2 separate regions of the Homo sapiens genome follow, and region 1 is linked to region 2. Evidence: fine-mapped expression QTL. A gene starts in region 2. The other region holds a variant in brackets. All regions are shown on one strand. Distances are between the middles of the regions.

Region 1 (12,079 bases), 42 kb after region 2:
TTTATTTCAATAACACCAGGAAATCCATTGTGGCTGAAGAAGAAAGATCAAGGGGAAGAGAATTAGCAGAGGAGATCAGAAGGGTAATGGTGGGGCCAGAAAAGTAGGACTTTGTCGGCAATTGTAAGAATTTGAGGGGGTAGGTATTTATGGCACTGGTTTAAGCAGAAGAGTGACACGATATTACACTTTAAACTGATCACTCTGGTTGCGTTGCTGAGAACAAGCTGGAGTGTGTAAATGGTGAAAGCAGGAAAACCAGTCTGGAAAATGGTGTGATAATCCAGGTAATAGAAGTTAGTGCTTATTCCAGGGTAGTAACAGTGAGGATATTAGGAAGAGGCCAGATCCTATGATTATTTGAAGGTAGGGTAACCAGAATTTGTTATTAGATTGGATGTAGGGTGTGAAGAACAAGGGGGAGTCAAGGATTAGTCCAAGGTTTTATATGTCAGCACCTGAGTGATGATAATTTTATTAACGGAGATGAGAAAGGGGAGCGGCATTTGGGAGAGAAGAAAATGTTTGTTTGGATATGTTCATCCAACGTGTAGGTGTCATTTTAGACCTTCAGGTATATGGATGTGGCATTCAGAGGAGAATTGTGAGCTACAGATAGAAATTTGAAGGTTGTCTGTGACTGGGTGATGTTGAAAACTATGAGTCAGGATAAAATGACCAATGCAGTGAAAGTAATTAGAGGAGAAGCTAAAGGACCGAGCTGTGGCGCACTTGGGCATTAAAAGGTCTAGGAGAAGAGGAAGGGCTTACACCGGAAACTGAATAGAAATAACCAGTAGGAGAGGAAGAAAATAAGGAGCTTGTCTTGAAAGCCAAGTAATGAGCCATTTTAAATGTTTCTAGGTAATCAAATAAGGTGAAAGCTAAGAACCTGCCAGTGGTTTAGCAATATGGAGGTCACTGAAGACTTTGATCTAGCCATGGTTCAGCAGAGTGACAGGAGTAGGAGAAAGGGAGGATATGAAGGTACAAGGAGCAGAGAAATGAATGTGTTTCATTTAAAAAATTAGTTTCAGCTGGGCAAGGTGGCTCACGCCTGTGATCCTAGCACTTTGGGAGGCCAAGGAGGGCGGATCACCAGAGGTCAGGAGTTCGAGATGAGCCTGGCCAACATGGTGAAACCCCATCTCTACTAAAAATACAAAATTAGCTGGGCCTGGTGGCGTGCACCTGTAATCCCAGCTACTCGGGAGCCCGAGGCAAGAGAATCACTTGAACCTGGGAGATGGAGGTTGCAGTGAGCCAAGTTCGTGTCATTGCACTACAGCCTGGGCAAAAACAGTGAAACTCCACCTCAAAAAAAAAAAAGAAAGAAAGAAAGAAAGAAAGAAAGAAAAAAGTGTTTCATATGGTAGAAGTAACAGTACACTTGTATGCTGATGGAAATGATAACATATAGAGATGGGGAAATTGATGTTGCAGGAGAAAGAAGAGAGATTTGGGGAGCTGGTTCCTTGAATAGGTTAACCGTAACCTAAGGCAACATAGTGAATAATTGAGGAGTTGCCCTTGGGTAAGAATGCAGGCAGTTTATCTATAACAAAGGAAAACAGAGTGAAGGTAGTTACTAGGTGCAAATATAATGATGAGAGCTTGTTAGAGTGTCTTCTGTTGCTTCAGTTTATTTATATATATTTTTTTGAACAAAGTAGAAAGCAGAGCCATTGGGTGAGAGTGACAATAGAAGAGGTGTTGAGCATGAGGAGGGAGAAAGACATTTATGAAAATAGTCATCCAGAGAATGGATTAGATAATCAGCACATGCAAGTAATGTAGAGGTGGGGCTGCATGACGGGTGTCCTTCTGACCATTGTTGCTCAGGGTAGTTCAGTACTTCCAGGCTGGTCAAAAATTAGTAGAGTTCTGCTCTTAGTCTCTCTCCTCTTCTGCCTCTGCTTCCCAAGGAGTTCAGCCAGAACCTCTGTCTCTTTCCCTGCCTAAACTGAGCTGCTTGCACTCCTGTGATTTATATACCATCCTTGTCTCCAGTTGTTCACACTTTGTAACTTACTGTTATTAGTTATTATATTAAAAATTAATGCTGTCCATGGAGGTTATGATTGGCTAAGCTTGGATATATAACTAGATTTAAAAGAAGGAACTGTTATCTCTGAATCAAGTTTGTGGATTGGAATTATGGAAACATGATTATAAGTTAATGTAACCATTTTAAAATAAGCAATAGATAGCATCTGGCCATAAAGACCTTTTATTCTGGATATTTAATGAATGGGCAAGAAGGATATATACTTTTGTGAATGTGTAGGAAATGTCTTCTTTACATATTTCTGTTCTTTGGTGAACAGGAAAGAAAGTGAGGGCTAGAGGAGCCCCCAGAAAGTGGAGCATTTTCCCATTTTTACTTATATCAACTTAGCAGAAAATAAATGCCTTATGGCTGTAGCGGAATAGTCAGTACCAGATGAGCGAAGCTAAATGCAAGAATTTGCAGTGCCAAGCTCCACCGAATCCCTAAACAGCCACTGACCGATCTTGATTCCAAGTTCAACGTATTAGTGTGAGTTGAATGAGTGTTTCATTAATACTCTAAAATCTAAGTCAAATTGAACAAAGATCATGAATAGCTAAGAATTACTCTTGTAAGTATAATGAGGAGTAGAACGGGTAAGAGAAGTCAGGAAAAAATAAAGAAACTGTGGACTCAAAGTCAGAAGTCCTGAGTTTTAAACATGGTTTTGCCATTGACTAGAAACCTTAAACAAATCCTGTAACCAGTAAAGCCCTGAACTTCTTATTTGAAAATGCAGGCTTGAGTTAGATGTCTTCTAAAGACTCTTTTAGCACTAAAAAGTAATTCTATGAAGTTAATCTTTATTAAATTGTCTTATCTATTAAAATATAATGATAAAATATCTTGATGTTTATCTTAATGTATTTAGTTTTTTAGTTTTTAAAGAAAATAGGTCTTTAGTTTTTGATAATTAATATGTTTTGTTTTTGTTAATAAAATTAACACTTTAAAAAAATACAGAAATCTAAACAATAAGAAAGTGAAGGAAGAAAGCACATCCAGTCCTATGTCTCCCTAGTAATGTTTGATGTTTGTAAGGCTACCATATAACAGTTGCTATTGTGAATGAAATATCTTTGTTTTATTTTAACTAGTTGTTTCCTTATTATAGAAAAGCTACCTTTAAAAATACTAATTTCTCAACTGATTGTCTTTGCTGAACTCTCTAAGTTACTTTTAGTCAATATTCTTGTTTTCTTTATGTAGCAAACTATTTTGTCTACAAATAAAATTTAACAAATTTTGAGTCTTTATCATATAATGCCTCCTTTTGATTGTTTATACTTAATATTCTTAGAAAACATTTTTCAGTGATTCCTTTGGCTAGCTTTCCTAGAAGAATATTATTAGTAATGGTGAGAGAGAAAATTTCTGGCTGTTAGTTTAAGCTTTTTTTTTCTTTAAAAAATATGCTAAAGGTCTTTATTAAGAAGTTTTAAAAAAAGTTGAATAGGCATTTGATGACTTTTTAGAACATATGGTGACTACAGATTCTTTTCCTCAGTCTATTTGTGGGAGAAATTATATTAACAAATCTTTTAGCATTAAACCATTTTTATGTTCTGCAATGAACATCAGTTGGTCATTAATAGAATTTCAGTACAGCAATGGATTACAAATATTAACATCTTATTACTAATTTTTGCTGTTAAATTTATGTTGAAATGGGTCTGGGGTTTTATTATTTGTAGGTTGTTTTGGTTGAGTTTTGCTTCGGGGTTACATGAATTTTGTATAAAATCATGTGAAGCCTTCCTTCTTCCTCTGAGCTCATAGAAGTAAACTCTTCCCTGAAATCTGAAAGAATTCTTCTACAACATTTTGTTGTTCTATAATAGCTCTGTCAGTTTTCTTTTATTATTGATTTATTTTGGTCCACTTATATTTTTCCACAAAAAAATGTCTTTCAAACAGATTTTTAAACTTATATGAACAGGGTTGAATACTTTACACAGAGTTAATAACTTTCCTGGGAACTTGAAAAATGGAGAATTATCTGTATATGATAGCTTATATTATTGTACAGCTTTATAATTACCTTGACACTACAGTTTCTCCTTAAAATTTTATCCTCTTTCCTGAAATAAATCTATTTGCAAAGAATACGCCTAATCTATGTTTCACATGCTGTGCTTTCTGCCATATTTTTAAAACATTTTTTTTTTTTGCTTGTACTCATCTTTGAATAAAGACTGTACAAGACAGCTTTTGTTCCTAAAATAACATGGATAGATCATTCATGGTTTCTCCTGTTTACCTGGCTGCCATTTTAATTCATCCTTCAAATTTAAATATAAATTCAGTCATGCTGCACCTGGGCAGGTAGGAAAAGAGCTATGGCCATGCAAAGCTTTATTTCTGCATTTTTTCTCTATATATTTGCTAGGAAAGAATGCACCAAATTTCAGTTCTAGTGTGTTGTGTGAGATCTAGTGTGTGTGGGTTGGTGGAGGGAGCTAGGAGGAGAAGAGGGGAGTGGGTTGTGTGTGGCCTGCGTTGAAGGTACTAAGGAGTATGCCTTTGATTTTGGATTATTCAGGTATGTTAACTAGATAGATTATAAGTCAGGTTGGTTAAAAGCCCTGGGGCCTGTGGGCTTTCAGCGTGCTGAAGCTACATTTTTTCTCCCATTTCTTGAGTAATAACTTTTACATCTGTGAAAATTGCTCAATCTTGCTTCAAAAGTCTCTAGATTCTGAGGATCCCTTTCCCACTGCCATGTTGGAGAAAATAGTTACTTTTAAGAAAAGTGGAATCAATGAAGAAACAAACAATAACAATATACGGAGGAGTGGTTGTTCATTTTTCTGAGTTTGATTAGCTTGGGGCAGCGACAGTCTATGGCAGAGACCCATTTCCCCCAAAGCTGTCTGTGCTTCCAGCCAGTTCTCCAATTACTTACTGTTAGTGAGAAGTGTCAGAATTTGCTCTAATTACTTCCCTGAAAACTGCACATTTTCAGGAAGGGAAGTTGCATATCAATCTTCGATGTTTTTCTTCACGCTGATTCAAATTTACTGTATCTAGCAGAGATTCCTGCCAGAAAGTTGTGATACACGGTAAGTGTCCCTTATCTGAAATGCTTGGGACCTCAGTGTTACAGAGTTCAGGTTTTCTTCTGGATTTTGAAATATTTGAATATACATAATGAGATATATTGGGGATGGGACCTGAGTCTAAACACAAAATTCATTGATGTTTCATATACACCCCATGACCCTCGTCTGAAGGTAATTTTATACATTATTCTTAATAATTTTGTACATGAAACAAATTCGTGTACATTAAGTCATCAGCAAGCAAAGGTGTCACTATCTCAGCCACTCATGTGGACAATCTGTGGTTGTTTGGTATAACTGTCATGATGTGCTCAGAAAAGATACATTGCAGCAGAAGCAGGTGGGGGGGGGGTCTTTTTTCTCTTGGGGATGCTTGGTAAACTGTGTGCTGTGTGTCTGTGCTTTGACTGTGACCCATCACATGAGGTCAGGTGTGAAATTTTCCACTCGTGGTGTCATGTCACTGCTCAAAATTTTCAGATTTTGGAGCATTATGGATTTTGAATTTTTGGATTAGGGATGCTCAATCTGTGTATCATTGGCAGTATTTATTGGTTTAAGAATTGATGAACATTTTGTTTCTCATTTGTATTTATTTTTAGTTATCTCTCTCAGTTTCTCAGAGGAATCCTTTATAAGAAATTCTCACAAGAAGTAACCTATTTTTTTCTTTTATATAAAAACAAGTGAGTAAAACATCTATAGGGCGCTTGATTATTTGAACCCTGAGACAGTTAACATTTCAAGTAGCAGTTCTCAAAATATGTTCTACAGAAGTCGGTTCCAAATCGTGTTAACAGCATTTATAGGAGCAAAAGTTTCCATGGTCAAAAAAATGTTAATAACAGAAGTGAAACAATATTAAACATGATTCTTTACTGAAGGACGTTTTTTTCAGATAGGGAGCTTGGTTGTTAATTTTTGTTGTTGTTGTTTTTTAACCTTTATTTTAGGTTTGGAGTTACATATGAAGATTTGTTACATAGGTAAACAGGTGTCACGTGGGTTTGTTTGACATATTATTTCATCATCCAGGTATTCAGCCCAGGACCCAGTAGTTGTCTTTTCTGCTCCTCTCCCTCCTCCCACCCTCCACCCTCAAATAGACCCCAGTGTCTGTTGCTTCTTACTGAAAGACTTTTCAGCACCATGAATATGCAAAAGAACACTGTGAACTTACAAGACAGACATAATATGCAGTATTTCCTAGAACTTATTTAATTTAGTGCCCTTATTTTTTCTATAAATTATCAGAAAGGAAAAATAAATTAGTATAACAAACACCAAAAACTACTGGTATAACAGCATCATTTCGCAATTATAGGTGAAGCAGTTAAGAAGAAATAAAAAGTCTTCTAAATGTTAGCCTTGCAAATTTAATTATAAAAGTAATCCCTCCCTCCCTTTTCCTGTATCTGTGCAGCAAATATTTGGCCCATGCTTAATTCATGATCCCATAAATGTGTGAAAGGAAATTGTAATACGAGGGAAATGATATGTTCACCTGCTACTTTATAAGGATATTGTGAGAATTGAATGAAAAATGCACGTAAAGTGCTATAAAAATCCCATCACTTTACAATGAAACCTATAGACCAACACTTTTAAAACATGCTCTTTTAACATAGGATGTGTGGTGAGTCATTGTGAGAATATGTTGCAAATTACTAATATTTCTAAGTTTGTGATATTATATGGTTTTTAAAAATACAAAATGTAACGTGTTCTAGGTTATGTTTATTATGATGTCATTGTCACTGATTTCTGACATATTCTCTCAAGTGGGAGGAAAGGGAAAAAGTTTTAAGTACTCTGTTGGAAATTGACCTGGGAATGGAATGTCTCTGGTGTTGCTATTTAGCATATGCTGTGATTTGAACGTGTCCCCCAAAGTTCACTTGTTAGAAACAATCCCGATGCAATGGTGTTGAGAGGTGGGACCTTTAAGGTAAAACTAGGCCATGAGGGATCTGCCTTCCTGTGTGGCTTAACACCATTATTGCAGG[T/A]GAGTATTCCTGATCAAAGGATGTGGTTGGCCTCCTTTCCTCTCTCTCACCTGAGTGCTCTTTTGCTCTCCTGCCGTAGGATGATGCAGCAAGAGGGCTCTCACCAGGTGCCAGCCTCTTGATCTTGGATTTCTCAACCTCCAGAACTTTAAGAAAATATATTTCTGTTTATTACAAATTATTCAGTCTTAGATATTCTGTTATAGAAGCACAGAATGAACTAAGACAGCATATGAGCTGTAGCCCATAAAGGTTCTGAATTAAAGCAGCAGAACCCTCCACCTTGAAGCAGCAAACATTCACAATTTTGATAAATCAAGAGCAACCCCCTAATTGCCCAATGTGGTGACTGGTAATATTGCTGACACATGGCTTTGAGTCACATGTGTTGTGAGGCTGCAAAGTAGGATGTGTCACTTGGCTTTTGGCAGATAATATGATTTAGGAGAAAGTCTGAAGTTTATACCAGTTGTCCTGATGAAGGCACTCATTTGGCTACTATATTTTTCTGTGAATAGAATATGAACATTTGTAGAAGACAATTTTTGTTTGCATAAGTTCATGTTAACAGAAACCATTAGGCCACATGTTCCACAGAAGGGTTTTTTTTTTTTTAGGGGCTAAAGAATTTTTTATATTGGAAAAGTTATAAGGTAGCTGAAACGTAGGCCTGTGAGGATGAAATCAGACAATACTGAAAAATAGATGTGAACACACATATGCACACATCTACTGCGGAGATGCCAATCTCAGTATTTAAAGGCATAAAGGCACACTGACTTTTCTACTTAGCTGTGTTTTAGCAAACTTTGTGATTAAGGGCAGACTTGCTCTACACTTTGACTAACCTAAGTGCATCTAGCCAGAAAAAGAAGGGCATTGTGCCTACGTATTAGCAGCCCATTACATTAAACTGTGACATGGCACAACCCCTTTGGACAGATTTCATTAGGGCATACTCTCTTGCAGACATCAGAAATACAAAGCCAAGTAGAACTTTGTATGCTAATTCTCCATTGTATGCTAATTCTCCATTGTCCCTTATTTATTTTGATTGGCAGATATTCTTTTATATACACTAAAAATATCAAAATGTTGACAGAATCTTGTTGTTTCACACTTTCTCTTTGGAAAACATGTTGCAACAAAGCACCTTTTACCTACGTCTACCAAGTGCTATTGCATTGACAGTTTGACTAGCTATTTGGGAGTGAGCCCTGCCAATGGCTGCTTCAGGATTTAGCACATTTTGTTTGAAAAACATTTGGTCATGATAGTCAGAATCTCAGGAAGACCCACAGATTCTATTTAGCACACAGTGTATCTGATAGGACTACTGCATTAATGGAAATGAAAAGCTAATTGCTGTTAATATGTAATGTACATGGGATTTACAGTTTGTAGAATGTTTTTCTCATACTAACTCTCAATGTTGTTGTGGTAGAAATAACTTGGAGTTATATGCTTGGATGCAGGTATCCCAACTGAATCTTTGGCATTAGGCTGGCTGAGGTCTTGTTGGAATCTGGGGATTCAGCCAGAGTCGGGTTGAGAACACTGACCTTACTGTCAAAACTACCCCATTGGAGGGTATGACCGGAAGGAGTTGTGACTGGAGTAACTGGAATACTGAATCCCTCTCATTCCTAACTCTGGAGGTGTGCACACCAAGTGATACCACCCTACAAGTGAGGGCACAAAAAGTGTGATTCACAGCATGGTTGGAAAGGTGGCCAGGCTGTCAGTCTTTCCTAGAGAGCTAAACCTTGATAGCAGGACCCTCATCCTATGGTACTGACTCAAAAAGAAAAGGACTGACCTACATATGGTCTCTGGACTCAGGCACACGACCCAGAGTTCAGAAAAGCCTTCAAATCCTAGCGGGAAACAAAGTGTTAGGCAAAGGGACAGGGCAGACTATGGAGTGGAAGTCAGCATTTCAGGAGAAAATCAGGTCCTGTGCTTACAGGATCAATCACCAGGGCTTGGCCATGGCAAAGCACTTCCTGGCATCATTGTGTAAGTACTCAGTCCTATGTAGTAATGGTAGAGGGCTATAGACAATGACAAGACCTGATCCAGTTAAAGGGCAGAGGCTGCACATTAGGATTCCCCCAGGAGATTTTAGGGTTAAGAAGTGTATCACTGAAATACTTCATTCTGCTTGCTACTCTGCAGAAGAATTGATAGAAGAATTAGGTAAAACAAAAAGTTGTTGAGACACATTTGTTGTAATAATGGAAATGTTATTATGTAGTATCTTCATTGTTCTTGATGCCCTGTTTGTTTGTTGTTTGTTATACTTTGGAATATATGTTATACTTTGTACTGTTTGTGAGTCCTAGGATGTTTTCTCAATTTCCATTTTACTTTCTAGAATTTAATTTTAAAATTTTGCACTATTTAAAAACATACAATTTGTTTCTAAGGAATTTGCCTTCTCTGCTTGTTTTTGCCAGGTTGTTTCCAAACACATTAACTACTATTGTGACAATAAACACGAGTCAGAGTTGAATAAAAAGAATTCTTTTTATCATCATCATCATCATCAATCACTGTCATCACTATACCATGATGTCTATCATATTAAAAATAAGAAGGCTTTCGTAGTCTACAGGAAGTAATTTCAATGTAGATCATAGCTTTATATTTTATTTAAAAGTTCTTGGTATTACTAATATGAAAATTATATTTTATTCAACCACCAGAGGGAGCTCTCAAATATATGGATTCTAAAAGGGAAGGAGTAAAGTAATTAAGTAGGCAGCTTTGTATGTTTTATAGTTGAAAATCAAAGATTTCATCAGCTGTGTGTCATGGTTTTTGTGGGATCACATGTTGTGTCTTCGTACATCAAGTGCTTAAAATCTTGTCCTACTATAGATGCCACATCATTTTAATTAACAGCTATGAAATAATAATCTTGTTTTTATGTTTTTTTTTAAGTTTGAGTAATTGTTTTATTTTAACTTTATATTTTAATTTTGGACAATATTGATTGATGCCATGCTTTGCAAATATAATTATGCTTTCAGACCTCCTCTCTTAGGTCCCAGTTTTTCTTAAGTTGTGTTTTTATATTGTCCAATTTATAAAACTTATATTCTTTTTTATAACCGTAAATTCAATGCTGAGACATCTCCTTTTCATATTTCTTTGTTTTGATGTATTGCTTAACTTGCTAAATTTTATTGTCAAATAGTTTATTTGAGAAGGGTCTTTGGGTTCTAGAATCCTTGATATCTTTCATGTTTGAGAATGACTACTTGTTGCTTTACACATGTATGACAATAGAGTGGGTATAATATTGTGAGGTCATATTTTCTTTCTCTCATCTATGATTTAATATTCCCCCTAGGAAAATCAAGTCTTCCAATTTTTTTTCACTAATATTATGTGGGTGTGGAAGGGGAAGGAAGGAAATTATCCAACTGTTTCCTGCAGGCAGAGCAAGTCCTTACAGAGCAGGCTGCCCTCAGTGATGATGAGTTTTGGATCTCCCAGAACATCCCACCTCTTAAATGTGTAGCGTCTTGTAAGTATCCTTCCCAATCAAGTTTATTCATAGCTTACTGAGTTCTGTCTCTCCTTCTCTGTTAAATGGCTTTATTGAGATATAATTCATAAATAAAAAAACTGCACGTTTGATATGTGCAGTTTGATGTGTTTGGATCTATGTATACATTGGCAATACTATCACCACAATCAAGATAATAAACATATCCATCATCTCCAAAAGTTTCCCTGTGTCTCCTCAACTCCATACTTTTTTGTGTTAAAAGCACTTAGCAGGACGATCTGGGGAGGAGCAGTCCCTGGGATCACTGTGTTTATCTGTTGTCTCTGTACCCCACTTTAAAGTGTCCGAAAGTTTTCTCACACAGTAATGTAATCAACCCCATTTTGTGGCTGTGGAAATTGTCAGGCACAAAGGTTAAGCAAATTAGCCAAGGCCATGAAGCAGATGAGTGAGACACCTGGGAGTGGATCCAGGACTCACAACTGCTCAGTTGATATATTGCCTTCCATTGCTTCACAAGGCTGCGAGCTGTCCTGCTTCTTCCCAACACACTTGACTGAAGTCAGGTATTTAAGTTTCTATATCTAAGCTGAAGTCAACAGTATTTCCATAAGTAGGATCTTGTCACAACAGAAAAAATGAATTATAAGCAATGAATAGAGGTGAAATATATTCATTCAGAGTCAGTGTGAATACATTCCATCTTTCTTCACTTCCTTTAACCTCTCATTTTCTCCAGGCTGCTTACAAATGTATTCAATGTGTTAACAAAAAAATTTAATAAAGACATTGCCAGAATATCAGCATTGGGAACAAAGAAAAATACTTTCTATTTGGTGTTAGCATAACTGTGCATTTTAACTAGGTGTATATCTCTCTGTGTATAATTAACATGCTATTTGTAAATAAAGTCAAATATTAAATATATGAAGTCACCATTTTGATTTATGTTTTTCTACAAAGCACAACCACTCTCTAACAAATATGTATCTGACAGATTGATCAATTATGGTCTCTACCAGGTCAAATGAGCTCACTTCCCTTCAAACCTTACAAGCCTAAGCAATAATGTGGTCTCCCAGACACAAAGAGGAAACAGCAAGCTTCTCTACTCCATCGTGATTGTTTCCTGGGCAAGCGTGTTTCCCAGCTGCAATCATAGATGCCCCAAAATGATGCCAGTGTCAGACCCTGCCGTGCTGTAGCTCCCTTCAGGGGACATCTCAACTGCTATTTTCCCTTCCCCTAGTCCTCCACTGAACCTGCCACACCTTCTAAGAAAACGAGGGTTGGCTCTGTGCTGAACTGCAGGGGCCCCACACACACTGTAACCTGCAGGAACATAGAACATAGGCATTTGACTGCTGGCTCCTCAGCTTACCACAAGGGGCAGACACTGACTGAATAGAGGTCCAAGAAATAAATTCCTAAGGAAAAGCAG
Region 2 (12,079 bases):
TCCCACCTTTCAAAGTCTCCAATGCCTATTATTCCACCCTGTATGTCCATCTGTACCACTGTTTAGCTCCCAGTTATAAGTAAAAACATGCAGCATTTGACTTTCTGAGTCATTTCACTTAGATAATGGCCTCAAGTTTCATCCATTTTGCTGCAAAAGACGACTTAACTCTTATGGCTGAGTAGTATTCCATGGTATACATATACCACATTTTCTTTTTTTCTCCCTCTCTTTTTGAGACAGGGTTTCACTCTGCTGCCCAGGCTGGAGTGCAGTGGCATGATCATAGCTCACTGAAGCCTCAAATTCCTAGGTTCAAGCGATCCTCCTACCTCAGCGTTCTGAGTAGCTAGGACTACAGGGTGCCCCACCATGCCCAGCTAATTTTTTAAAATTTGTTTTTAGCAGACGGCTCTTACTCTTTTGTACAGACTGGTCTTGAACTCCTGGGCTCAAGCAATCTTCCTGCCTCAGCCTCCTTAAGTGTCAGAATTACAAGCTGTAATTACAAGCCCGGCCATACCACATTTTCTTTATCCAAACCTCTGCTGATGGACATTTGGATGATCAATTGCTAATTATTCACCAGATTCTGACCTTGTAATCAGATTTGTATAGATTGTATGAAATCATACTTTTTATTTTCTCTGTCATCTTACAGGGGTCCAAAAGGTATACTTCGGGAGGAGTAGATGATAGAGGAAAAATTATATAACATATAACTTGAAATGAGCTTAAAGGAGAATATAATAAAATAATTAAATGCTAGAGTGAAAGGGATACTTTTACCATTATCATAAATATTCCAAAGGTCCACCTTTTGTTTTAATACATGAGGTTGTTTTACTTGCTATGAGCATTAGCTGTCTTCTTCACCTCAATTTTCAGTAGTTAAGTGCTCCTCAAATTTAAATCAACCTATTTATTCACCGGATGGCATTTTGTGCATTCTTTCCAATGAGGGTTGCTGGAAAATTCAGTCTTTTTGTATATTACACGTACTTTCTCAATTTTAAAACATAATTTGCCTTGCCTGTTAAGAGTGTTTTCTGTTGCCATTGTTGTCATTGAATAATTAGCCCCAGACAGACTATGGCAATATAAAGCACAGAGGTTTTGGAATTAAAATTCTCATAATAATAATTATAATGCATGGCTTCCTGCAGTTTGTTTCAAGAGATTTCACTAGAAGCTTGTTCCATTAAGAGTGCACATAATGTTACTCTTTACCCTTTGTCTATGCCATTTCTTTTGAGAGTTGAAGTAGTTGAGGATCTACTATGTGGTCTCCAACTGTCTTATCTGGTTTGGGTAATTTCATCATATTTGAGGACCAAAAAGTTGAATAGCAATAAAAACAGACTCTACTTGGGAGGCTGAGGCAGGAGGATTGTTTGAGCCTGGAAGTCAAGGCTGCCATGAGCCATGATCTTACCGTGAGCCATGGCCGTAAGCCATGGCCGTGAGCCACGATCTACTGAGCCTAGGCTGAGTAGTCAAGTCAAAACTTGAGACTTTTGACTTGCCAAGACAATGGTTTGTGTGACTGTGTAAATGACACAGCATCTCTTAAGGTCACTTACCTGATTTCTAAAATGAAAACTTCAGACTAAATGATCTTTTTCATCTTGCAGACACCTTATTCTAAGAATCTACCTGGTCCTCCAAATGCAGAAACTCTTTAGATCTGAAATTGCCTCACGGACAATGCTGCAAACATACCTAGGGCCTTGGACCCACATCTCATAGGTTCCCAGCTCTCCCATTAATGATGTAGCTTGGTAGTTTGGTCCATAATTGAAGACCTTTCTCCTACATCACATAGAGAGTAACATATTAAGAATGGCTGGTTTGAGAGTGCTTTTGGCATTGTTGTCACACCCACACTCCCCACCATCCTGAACTTTTCATTAGGTTACCGAAAAGATAAACCATAGGAATAACGCAAGGCAAGCGTGGCTTGTGGGATTGCCCTTACTTCCCCTGAAGAGGCTGAAATTGGAGAATTTGTTTTCAGTAGGGAATTTGGTTAAACCAGAAGGAGGTCTGTCTAAAAATTCTTGTTGGTTTTTAATGTAAGCCAAATAATACATTCAATCCTCAGCTGCTTAAGTTATGGGGGTCAAAGTTAACATAAATAGTTTTCTACAATCCATCAACTCCAGTCTTTATCAGTCTTTAAAACCAGTGTTTACTGAATGTCCATTGCATAGACCTATTTTCACTGATAATTTAATTCCATAACCACTTCATGAAGAAGTAGGTAAGTACTACAAGTTATTCACATTTATAGATGGAGAATCTGGGGCACAAAGACAGTCATGTAGGAAAATTCCTTTCGTATTTTTCTCTCTCTTTTTTTTTTTTTTGATATGGAGTCTCATTCTATCATCTAGGCTGGAGTGCAATGGTGCGATCACGGCTCACTGCAACCTCAGCCTCCCAGGTTCAAGTGATTCTCCTCCCTCAGCCTCCTGAGTAGCTGGGATTATAGGTGCCCACCACAACGCCTGGCAAATTTTTTTGTATTTTTAGTTGAGACGAGGTTTCACCATGTTGGCCAGCCTGGTCTCGAACTCCTGACCTAAGGTGATCTGCCCACCTCAGCCTCCCCAAGTGTTGGGATTACAGGCTTGAGCCACCATGCCTAGTCAGAAAATTCCTGTACATAATATAGATATGGAATTCAAATCCAAGACTGTCACATTGAAGAGTCTAGAACCTCAGCTTTTAGGCACTGAACTACATTGCTTCCTTAAAAAATAACCATATATGTGTAGTCAAGGGGATTGCATAAAAACCCATCTTCCTGTGCATGAACCTCACTAAGGTACTTCCTGGCCAAACTGTGAAACTGCATCATATGCTTTTATTTCAGAAAAAGAGACTAAATATTTGTTCTTGTTACAGTAGGTTATGTGTCAGGGTTAAAAGCAGAAAAAAAAGTCACATAGATGAGTGTGAATATGACACGTAAGTTCGTTCTATGAAATGGCCTTTTCCATTTTTTAAAAAAATATTCAAACACTAACGTGATGCAGTTTGTAATTCTCCTTTATGCTTGTTCAGGGTTTCTAATATTAGTTCTCTATTATTATTTTTTGAGACAGGGCATCACTCTGTTGCCTAGGCTGGAGGACAGTGGTAAGATCATGGCTCACGGCAGCCTTGACTTCCAGGCTCAAGCAATCCTCCTGCCTCAGCCTCCCGAGTAGAGTCTATTTTTATTGCTATTCAACTTTTTGGTCCTCAAATATGATGAAATTACCCAAACCAGATAAGACAGTTGGAGACCACATAGTAGATCCTCAACTACTTCAACTCTCAAAAGAAATGGCAAAGACAAAGGGTAAAGAGTAACATTATGTGCACTCTTAATGGAACAAGCTTCTAGTGAAATTTCTTGAAACAAACTTCAGGAAGCCATGCATTATAATCATTATTATTAGAATTTTAATATTTTGTCTGCTAATGAAAACTTATAGCCCATGATTCATATAACTGTGCTTCAGGAAGTAAAGGCTTTTTCTGAAAAATGCACACGCTAGCTTCCTTTTCTCAGTTTACCTTTCTACTTTAGAGCAGAGGTGTTGCAAGGATTAGAACCAAGGGTGATCCAGAAGAAGAAACTGCAGAACTATGGGCATTGCAAGGAAAATAGGGTTGTGCTCAATTTTTAGTTTTGTATTAAGCTCCGGGAGGACATTCCTTAGAAGTCCTCCATAATTACGTTGGCTATTCTTTCCGCTCTCTCTATCTTTGTTTTGTTACTGAGCTGGCACTCCTTGGTTGTGTCAATTCTTGATTCTTTACCCACGAGAGTGGAAAGAAGTCTTGATCTAACGGAGTAGCCATCAAAAGAAAGAGCAGTCAGTTTCCTATTCCCGCACCCTCCCCCCAGCTGTCTTCTTGCTTGAGGAAGTACTTACTGTAAAGCATTCCAATTTTCCTAAGCAGATCTTTTCCCCTCACAATCCTTTTTCCTCTTTTTTAATTCCAGTAAGTTTTTTGGCTCTTTCATTGGTCATATATGACTGCCATCCGAATCCAACCCTCCTGAATTCTGTCCCTGTCCATTCTAAATCCGTATTCTGCACAAATAAGATATATTAGGTCTCAATACTGGTCTGGAAGTTAGAGTCACGCCTATTTCATTCTGCCTCCATCAAGAAGCGCCCGTAGGAAAAAATAACAACAAAAACAAAAACAAAAACAAAAAAACCCAGAAGCTGGCCTTCCTCAGCGCCAGCCCCAGGACTGGTTTCCCAGCAATAGGCGCAAGGTACAGCCCTTGCCGGAAACTCCCAGTCTTACTCAGGGGGGAAAAATGGGGTTTTCCGGAGACCTGTTCCCCTAGGGTTTAAAAGCGCGTCCCGTGGGAGCTTCGCTTTCACTTCTCTAGGGAGTTCTGAGCTGCAAGAGCCCAGCTACTCGCCGAACCCGGGCCGCCTGCGTGAGTAACTTGGGGCGGCCAGGAGCACGGGAAGGGCGCCAGACAGAGAGCCTTTGGCTGCTTCTGAGACCGGCTGTGGGCTGCCACCGCTGAGCGGCGCGGAGGCTGCAGCGTTCCCTCTCAGGACAGAAAGCAGGCGTTGGGGACTGTTACTCGCAGCCTGCCAGGGGCAGCAGCCGCCCCAGGTTCAAGTGGCTATGTGCCAGGATACTCAGGCGCGGCTGTTGGCTGCCCATGGGAGAGCCAGTGCTCTCCGCAGGTCCAAAGTGCAAGGCCGGGCTATTCCCGGACTTGCCTAGGAGCAGGGGCCCCCAGCGCGTCTGGGATTGCCCCGGCGCGTCGGGCGCGCGAACTTGTGCGCAAGGGAGAAGAGCGCTTACCATGGAACATGGTCTGCGGGAGGCGGGCGTAGTCATGATGACCGCAACTGGAGCAGGAGCAAGCTCTCACCGCCCATAGTCACTCCCAGGACCCTGGTCTTCCGCGGAGTTGCCGAGTCTGTGTTGGGCAGGGTGATCTCTGCAGCTGGTTCCTCTTACCCACGCCGCGACTGCAGTTTCATCCATCCCAAGGGGGGCGGCACACACTACGGCGTGGCTCTGCGCTTTGCCTTTTCCATAACTTCCGTAGGATCCGCCAGCAGTGTACTTTCAGTTTCTACTTTGCGCTTGGTCTGCAGGTTCAATCTTTGGGATCATCAGCATGGAATCTTCATTATCCCCTCTCTCCTGGGCACCTGCTTCCCGCGCACCTGGATGAGGACCAGAGGAATTCGCGAATTTCCGAATCACCGCAGGAAAAACCAGCTGGCCTGAATCAAAGCAATTCTGGGTAAAAGACTTCCCAGATGATCTCTCAACGCCTTGGCAACGCTTGGCGACTGGGAGCTAGAACCATGAGTTGTTAATGTGTGCACGGAAGCCACAAGTGTGCAGGACGCAAGCTGGGTTATTGGAAGCGGACGACACCAAGGAGGCGTTGCCGCGGATGTGGTGGACGATGCCAAGTCGTCTTTTAAAAAAGGAAGTGAAGAATGATTAAGAGGGTCACGCCCTCTACCACTCCAACCTCTCTAATCAGTCTCTTTCTGCTCCGTCTGCTGTACATGCACCTGCTCAGGTGAGACCTCAAGGAAAAATAATCCTGTGGGTCCACCTAATCTGGTAAGTGTTGTATTTGGAAAATCAAACCCCAAATTAAACGCAGGACGTGGAAACTGACGATAATATTTAACTATGACTTCCACGTGCACATTTATCTGAATTGGCTAATAAATCAAACTATTCGTCTTGAATGCATGCCACTGAAATGTTAACTTTTTCCTGGGCTTGAATTATGTAGCTTATTTGCTACATTAGTTTGGTTTCTGCTATTCTGCAGAAACCCTGCTTAGATGAAGGTGGATAATGTAAACCAGTAACAACAGCGATAATAATAACGACTATCATTTATCTAGCATTTGCTCTCTGCCAGTTTTGTGCTAAGCATTTTATGTATATCATCTCATGCAAAACTTTGTGTGAGGTAGACCATTTTCTTATCTGCACTTTACAGATGTGGGGACTGAGACTTCCTTAAGTAACTTTCCAAATTTCACTTAGCTAACTGAGCTTAGACACAGACTTGCTGCATTTGGGCTGTAGAAACTCCTGCTTGGAACTCCTGTGAATAAAGTAATAATGTGCACACTGATGCCGGGAGGGAGATGACAGTACGTGTGTGGCTTTGCCCCAGTGTGGGGACTTCAGGAAAGTTTCCTGGAGTCTGTGACTTCTAAACTGACACTTGAAGAGGAATGAACTTGGGGCTGGTAAGGAGTATGTCACATTCTGCTATAGCGTGAACAAGGAAGAGGAGGGAAGGAGAAAGGAAAAAAAAGGATGGCAATGAACTAGGGAGAACAGAGTTGCTCAAGCCTGAAACTTGGGTCTCTGATTCCTTTTTTGGTCTCATTTCCCACATCAAATCCATAGACAAGTCCTGTCTGCCCCACCTCCAAAATTAACCCTAAGGTGACTATAGAGACTGTCTAAGGGATCTTCCAGCTTTCACTTTTGCCCACAACCCCTTCATTCTTCTCAGAGCAGCAGGATATCTGATTCTATTTTGTGCCCCACCTTCTGGTCACTTCCCACTGGGTACCAGGCCCTCAGTGCCCTGGTGATCTGGGCCCCACTGCCCTCTCTGACGTTTCGTGGTACCACATCACTATCCTCCAGCCACAATGGCCTTTCTCTTCCTGCCCAGCGTCCACTTACTATGGTCTTTAGCCCATGGCTGGCATTCAGTAAGTACTGGGGGGTGACAGAGTAAGAGAGAACAGGTGAGTGGGAATGCATCAGTGAATATGTGTGAAAGAGAAAGTTCATGAAAGCAGAAGGAAATAGAATGAAAGAGGAAGCGAAGGGGGTAAGCAAATGGAAAAGAGAGACAGAATGGAGTGAGAAAAGCCACATATTTCCATTTGACTGGAACCTAGAGTGGGAGGTGGGGAGGAGGACAGACATGACACTGGAGTGAGTTTTAAAAATGATTTCTATAATGAAACACGCCTAGGTTGGGGATTTATTTATTTATTTATTTATTTATTTATTTATTTATTTATTTTAAATCCCTGACAGCAGCATTGAAGTATGTAACTGTTCATAGCCTGCACCTTTTTCTTTTTTTAACTTTCCAGGAACAAAGTAAAAGAGCATCCATCAATACTTTGCACAAAAGGAAATCCGTCTTCCTTTTATCACAATCACCATAAATCCAGGTAGAATAAGGGTTGTACATATCTGAACTTTTGGGAAGCATGAAAGGAAGTTATTCAGAGCTGCAGGAAAGGCAATGTAAATGTTACACTGGATTCTGCCCCCAACTATAAAGAATCTTTCTGAAGAGAATATTCATAAAGCTTTGGGAATTGTTAGGGTTATATGAAATGGGCACATTCTAACAACATCAAGTAATGATTTTTTTTTTCTGTCTGTGAGATAATTAATACCATTTAGAAAAAAATCCAAAATGAAGTCTTAAATTAGCTTTTGATATTTTGATAAACTGAATATTATTTTTTATAAGATAGATGGACAAGAATAAAATGTTTATAAATTTTTAAAATGCTAATGTTTTATGATTAAAGAAATGGAATGGTTACTATTATGTTTGCTCATAGACTCAATGAACTGGACAGAAAAGCCTTTAAGGGAGAAAATAGTAAATACATTTTATGAATTATGGTAAATAAATTTTAAAAGAGAAGACAACATTCTCAGAATGATCAATATAATGTATTAGAAGAAGTTCAAATAAAATTATATGATGTCAATTTAAAGAGAAAATTATTGAACATTAACCAATATCTTTTAATGTTCTACAGTCTTCAGTCAGAATAGTCAATTATTGTAAACCAGAAAATATTTTTTGATTAATATCTGAACTATTTTTACCCAACTTAATATGACTACTTTTTGTAGTCTGTGATATGAATTCTATCTATCATTCTATCTATGGGTAGTATGAAGTTCTTTTTATTTAACTTTCCAGTAATAACATTCAACATATTTAAAACACACACACAGCGCCACACAGCCAACATTATGGATATATGATCTGTGTAATTGGCACAGGGCCTTGTACTTCATTTGATGCTCTGCTGTCACTGTATTGAAATTCCTCATTTTTAGATAAAGGGACTCTTATTTTCATTTTGCACTGGGTTTCAAAATTCTATAATGGTCATGCACACTCACACATGTTAAGTTACACATTGTGGATAGCAGTGTATGTCTTTGAGGTGATTTCAGTTTGGTGGGAAAAACAGATGTTAAATATCTAATTTCAAAGATGAAAAATATCATTAAAAGAGAAACATGATATATTATTTGAATCAGAAGTTTAAAGTAGTATAGGCCCATTTTCATAGTTAAATGAGGATCAATAAAGGTTAATTTATCTGTCCAATAAACAAGCAGCTATGAGAGGATGACCTGTAATTTGATAAAATTTAAATTTTACCAAATGACTAATGAGCGTCTATTTACATGGTCATGGTTTTTTTGCTGAATTCCTAAATAAACCATAAATTTAACATAATGCAACGTTCAAATTGGTAATATTTAACCTAGAATTTTACAGTTATAGTCATAATTGGGTTATGTTTATTTTTAATTTTATATTCAACTGATACTGGGCTAGTTTTGTCCAGTTATGCTAGTTTCATAAAATAAATTGGAAATTCTATTGTTTTCTAAAACTGTCAACTGTTAAACATGTGAACTATTTGTTTCTGGCAGACTTACTAGAGTTCAACAATAAAACTTACTTGATTCCGTGGATGAAGCCCAGGAATAGGACGAGACTGTCAGTTTTGAGCATTACAAGTGAGAAAATGAAGAAGGGTTTATTTTGAAGGCTGAATCAAAATAGCCATGTCAGACTGTCAGAACTTTGCTGGAGATGGGTATGTTAGCATATCAGTGATGGCCAGAGCCATGGAAATGAATGCAATTACTCAACCTGCATGTTAGAAGACAGAAGAGAGAACTAATGCTAGCAGGAATCTTGAGGCATGAGCAACCCTAAAAAGTAGCTGGAGAAAGGGGTGCCCATCAACAAAACAGACGAATACATAGTAGGCAGCAAAGTGGGAAAGTCAGAAGTCAGTGTCTCAGAAGGCAACGGAAAATAGAATTTCAAGATAGAGTAAGTAGCCAGTATTTCCAAATGTCACAAAGAGGTTGAATAAGATAGAGACTGAAAAGTGTGTCTATTAAATTTGGCAGAGCAGAGATTGTCCATGATCCTCATGGCAACAGTTTGAGAAGAGCAGTGTAGATGCAAATAATATACTAGCTTGCAGGGGTTGAGAGAAGAAAGAAATAAAGTAAGAGAATATAACTTTTACAAAATGTTTGGTAATAATAAAAGGGATAGGGTAATGATTTGAAAGGCATGGAAGTTTTTATTTTCAATTATTAGAAACACTTGAGCATATTTATATATTAATGGATAAAATTAGGTTCTGCAGAACGGGGAAAGCATGGAACCAAGAAACCCAAGATACTCTGTTGATTTCTTTTCTTATTTTCTCTCCATTTCTCCCTCCTCTTTAATTTCAGTCCCAAAATTCTATAATTCTAAACAATCAGAATCCACTCTCTATCTGGGGTCTAAATTTATGTTCCTTACTGAAATGTTCCCATCGGCACTCATCTAATTCTGGATTGAGTATTGGCTTGTCTAAGAAAGAAGTCTAATATTTCCCAAATCGCCTTTCAGAGAGGGCCGCTGTAGCTTTTACATAGATTTGCATTATCCAATCCCTTTATATGCTAATGTTGCATTGTTGGCAATCAGGGCTTTCTTTTATATACAGTCTTGCATCATTTAACAATATATTCCGAGAAATGATAAATTAACCTTTGCTTACTCTAACTATTTTTACTTTATAAACTTTTATTTTTTTCCAACTTTTTGACTCTTGTCATAACATTTAGCTTAAAACACAAACACATTGTACAGCTGTTGAAAATATTTTCTTTCTTTATATCCTTATTCTATATGCTTTTTTCTTACTTTTTAAACTTTTTTGTTAGAAACTAAGACACAAACACACATATTAGCTTAGGCCTACACGGGGTCAGGATCATCATCACTGTCTTCCATCTCCACATCTTGTCCCACTGGAAGGTGTTCAGGGACAATAACATGCATGGAGCTGTCATTTCCTATGATAGCAATGCCTTCTCCTGGAATACCTCTTGAAGGAGCTGCCCGGGCTGTTTTACTGTTAACTTTTTTTTTAATAAGTAGAAGGAGTACAATCTAAAATAATGATAAAAGTATAGTAAAAGCATAAACCAATAACATAATTGTTTATTATCAGGTGTTGGGTGCTGTACAGTATTGCATGTGGTATACTTTTATAGGACTGGCAGTGCAGTAGGTTTGTTTATGCCAGCATCACCACAAACACATGAGTAATTGGTTGTGCTAAGTTGTTACAATGGCTACAATGTCACTAGGTGACAGACATTTTTCAGCTCCATTGTAATCTTAGACCACTGTCCTGCAGGCAGTTCTTTGTTATACAGTGCATGACTGTACTAGATTTTGGAGGGACTATGCTTTCAACCACTGCCTTTATAGAAGATTAATTAGAAAAGAATACACCTACAACAAATTTCTTCATGCAAACTGAAAAAAATGTAAACATATTTTGTTTAAATCACTGGATAGATTCCCTTTATATGATCCAGTTACTATATGAAGATGTCAACTTGTTCTTATGAGCTCTTGGAGAGCAGTTACTATCTTTTTCAACCTGGAATTCTCTGTAGTCAACAGAATATGTTTCAGTTTACAAATTCTACCCATGTATGACTTGTGGAAAAGGGAGACATCAGACTGCACAAGTCTTGACTCGCTGTTATTACACAGAACCATATCTGAGCGAACTTGTGTTCACATCCAAGAATGTTACAAAACCAACTACTGATTGATATTGATATATCTAAAGTTGTGACAAGCTTGTTAAAATTTTAATATTTAATATAGATTTAGACTTCTTTTCCTAATATGGAAGGCTGTCTAATATGGAAGCCTTCTAATATTTAATATAGATTTTAGATTTCTTTTCCTAATATGGAAGTCTTCCTAATATGGAAGGCTGTCTTGTTGAAATCCTTTTATTTTTAGATTAGAAATTAATCCAATCTACCTTTCCTTCAGGCAAGCCAGGTTTGATGCAAGCCAGGTTTGGTTCAAGCCAGGTTTGTCTTTGCCTTAGACTATTATTGGACTCTTAGTACATCCATTAACTCATATACAATGTAAAATGATTAGGTTTATTGCAACAGTAATGACATCATAATCTAGAAATATAGTGTATGTCCCTGAGTTTCTGGGGTATCAGTCATTTTTCTATGTCAATAACGTGTCAATTAACTGGCATCCTACAAGCCTGGAACTACCATTAATGTTTTCTCCAAATAATTTAATATGTTATCTGGCAATGACATATATATTTCAATGAGAAAAGCACAAAAAATGAAATTTTTAAGAGACGAAAACACTAAGCCATGGAGTTTCATGTGCCAATGATTTCTTCTTCAAACCATGGAGCAGTGTGTCATCTATTTCTTGAGTAACATTTTATTAAATGTCGGCTGTATGCTTTCATTTCCTTGTTTCTTTTTCTAACAATTCTCCACTATGTTTTACTAAAATGTTTTTCAATTATGTCTTTCTCATTTTTAATGTTTTTAATTTAATTTTACATTGACCGATAAAATTGTCTGTTTTCAAGTATATATAAATTGTGAAATGAATAATCTAGTTACCATATGCACTACCTCACATACCTATCATTTTTGTGATAAGAACACTTACCTTCACTCTCAGCATTTTTTAAAAATATAATATATTGTTATTAACTGTATCACCATATTGTACAGTAGATCTCTTGAACTTATTTATTCTGTCTAACTGAAATTCTATATCCTTTGACCAACATCTCCTCAACTTCCCCTACAACCACTCCAGCTCCTGGTAACCATGGTTCTTCTCTTTATTTCTAAGAGATCAGCTTTTTTAGATTCTATGTATGAATTAATAAGATCAGGCAGTATTTGTCCT

The links. PIP is the estimated chance that this variant, and not a neighbour inherited with it, causes the effect.
Region 1: its variant is fine-mapped to the expression of MITA1 in whole blood (TOPMed, PIP 0.99).

What each region holds. Positions count from the first base shown.
Region 1 is chr8:78,842,498-78,854,576 of GRCh38, forward strand. The region is part of intron 1 of MITA1 (metabolism induced tumor activator 1); the gene reads left to right. Among named protein-coding and RNA genes, the nearest start is that of LINC02605, 11 kb to the left of the region's middle. The variant T/A (reference allele first, on the strand shown) is at 7,119.
Region 2 is chr8:78,800,080-78,812,158 of GRCh38, forward strand. MITA1 (metabolism induced tumor activator 1) reads left to right here and starts at 4,393. Exons shown (of 3, transcript XR_002956715.2): 1 at 4,393-5,616. IL7 (interleukin 7) reads right to left here and starts at 5,384. Exons shown (of 6, transcript NM_000880.4): 1 at 4,834-5,384. The coding sequence starts at 4,843.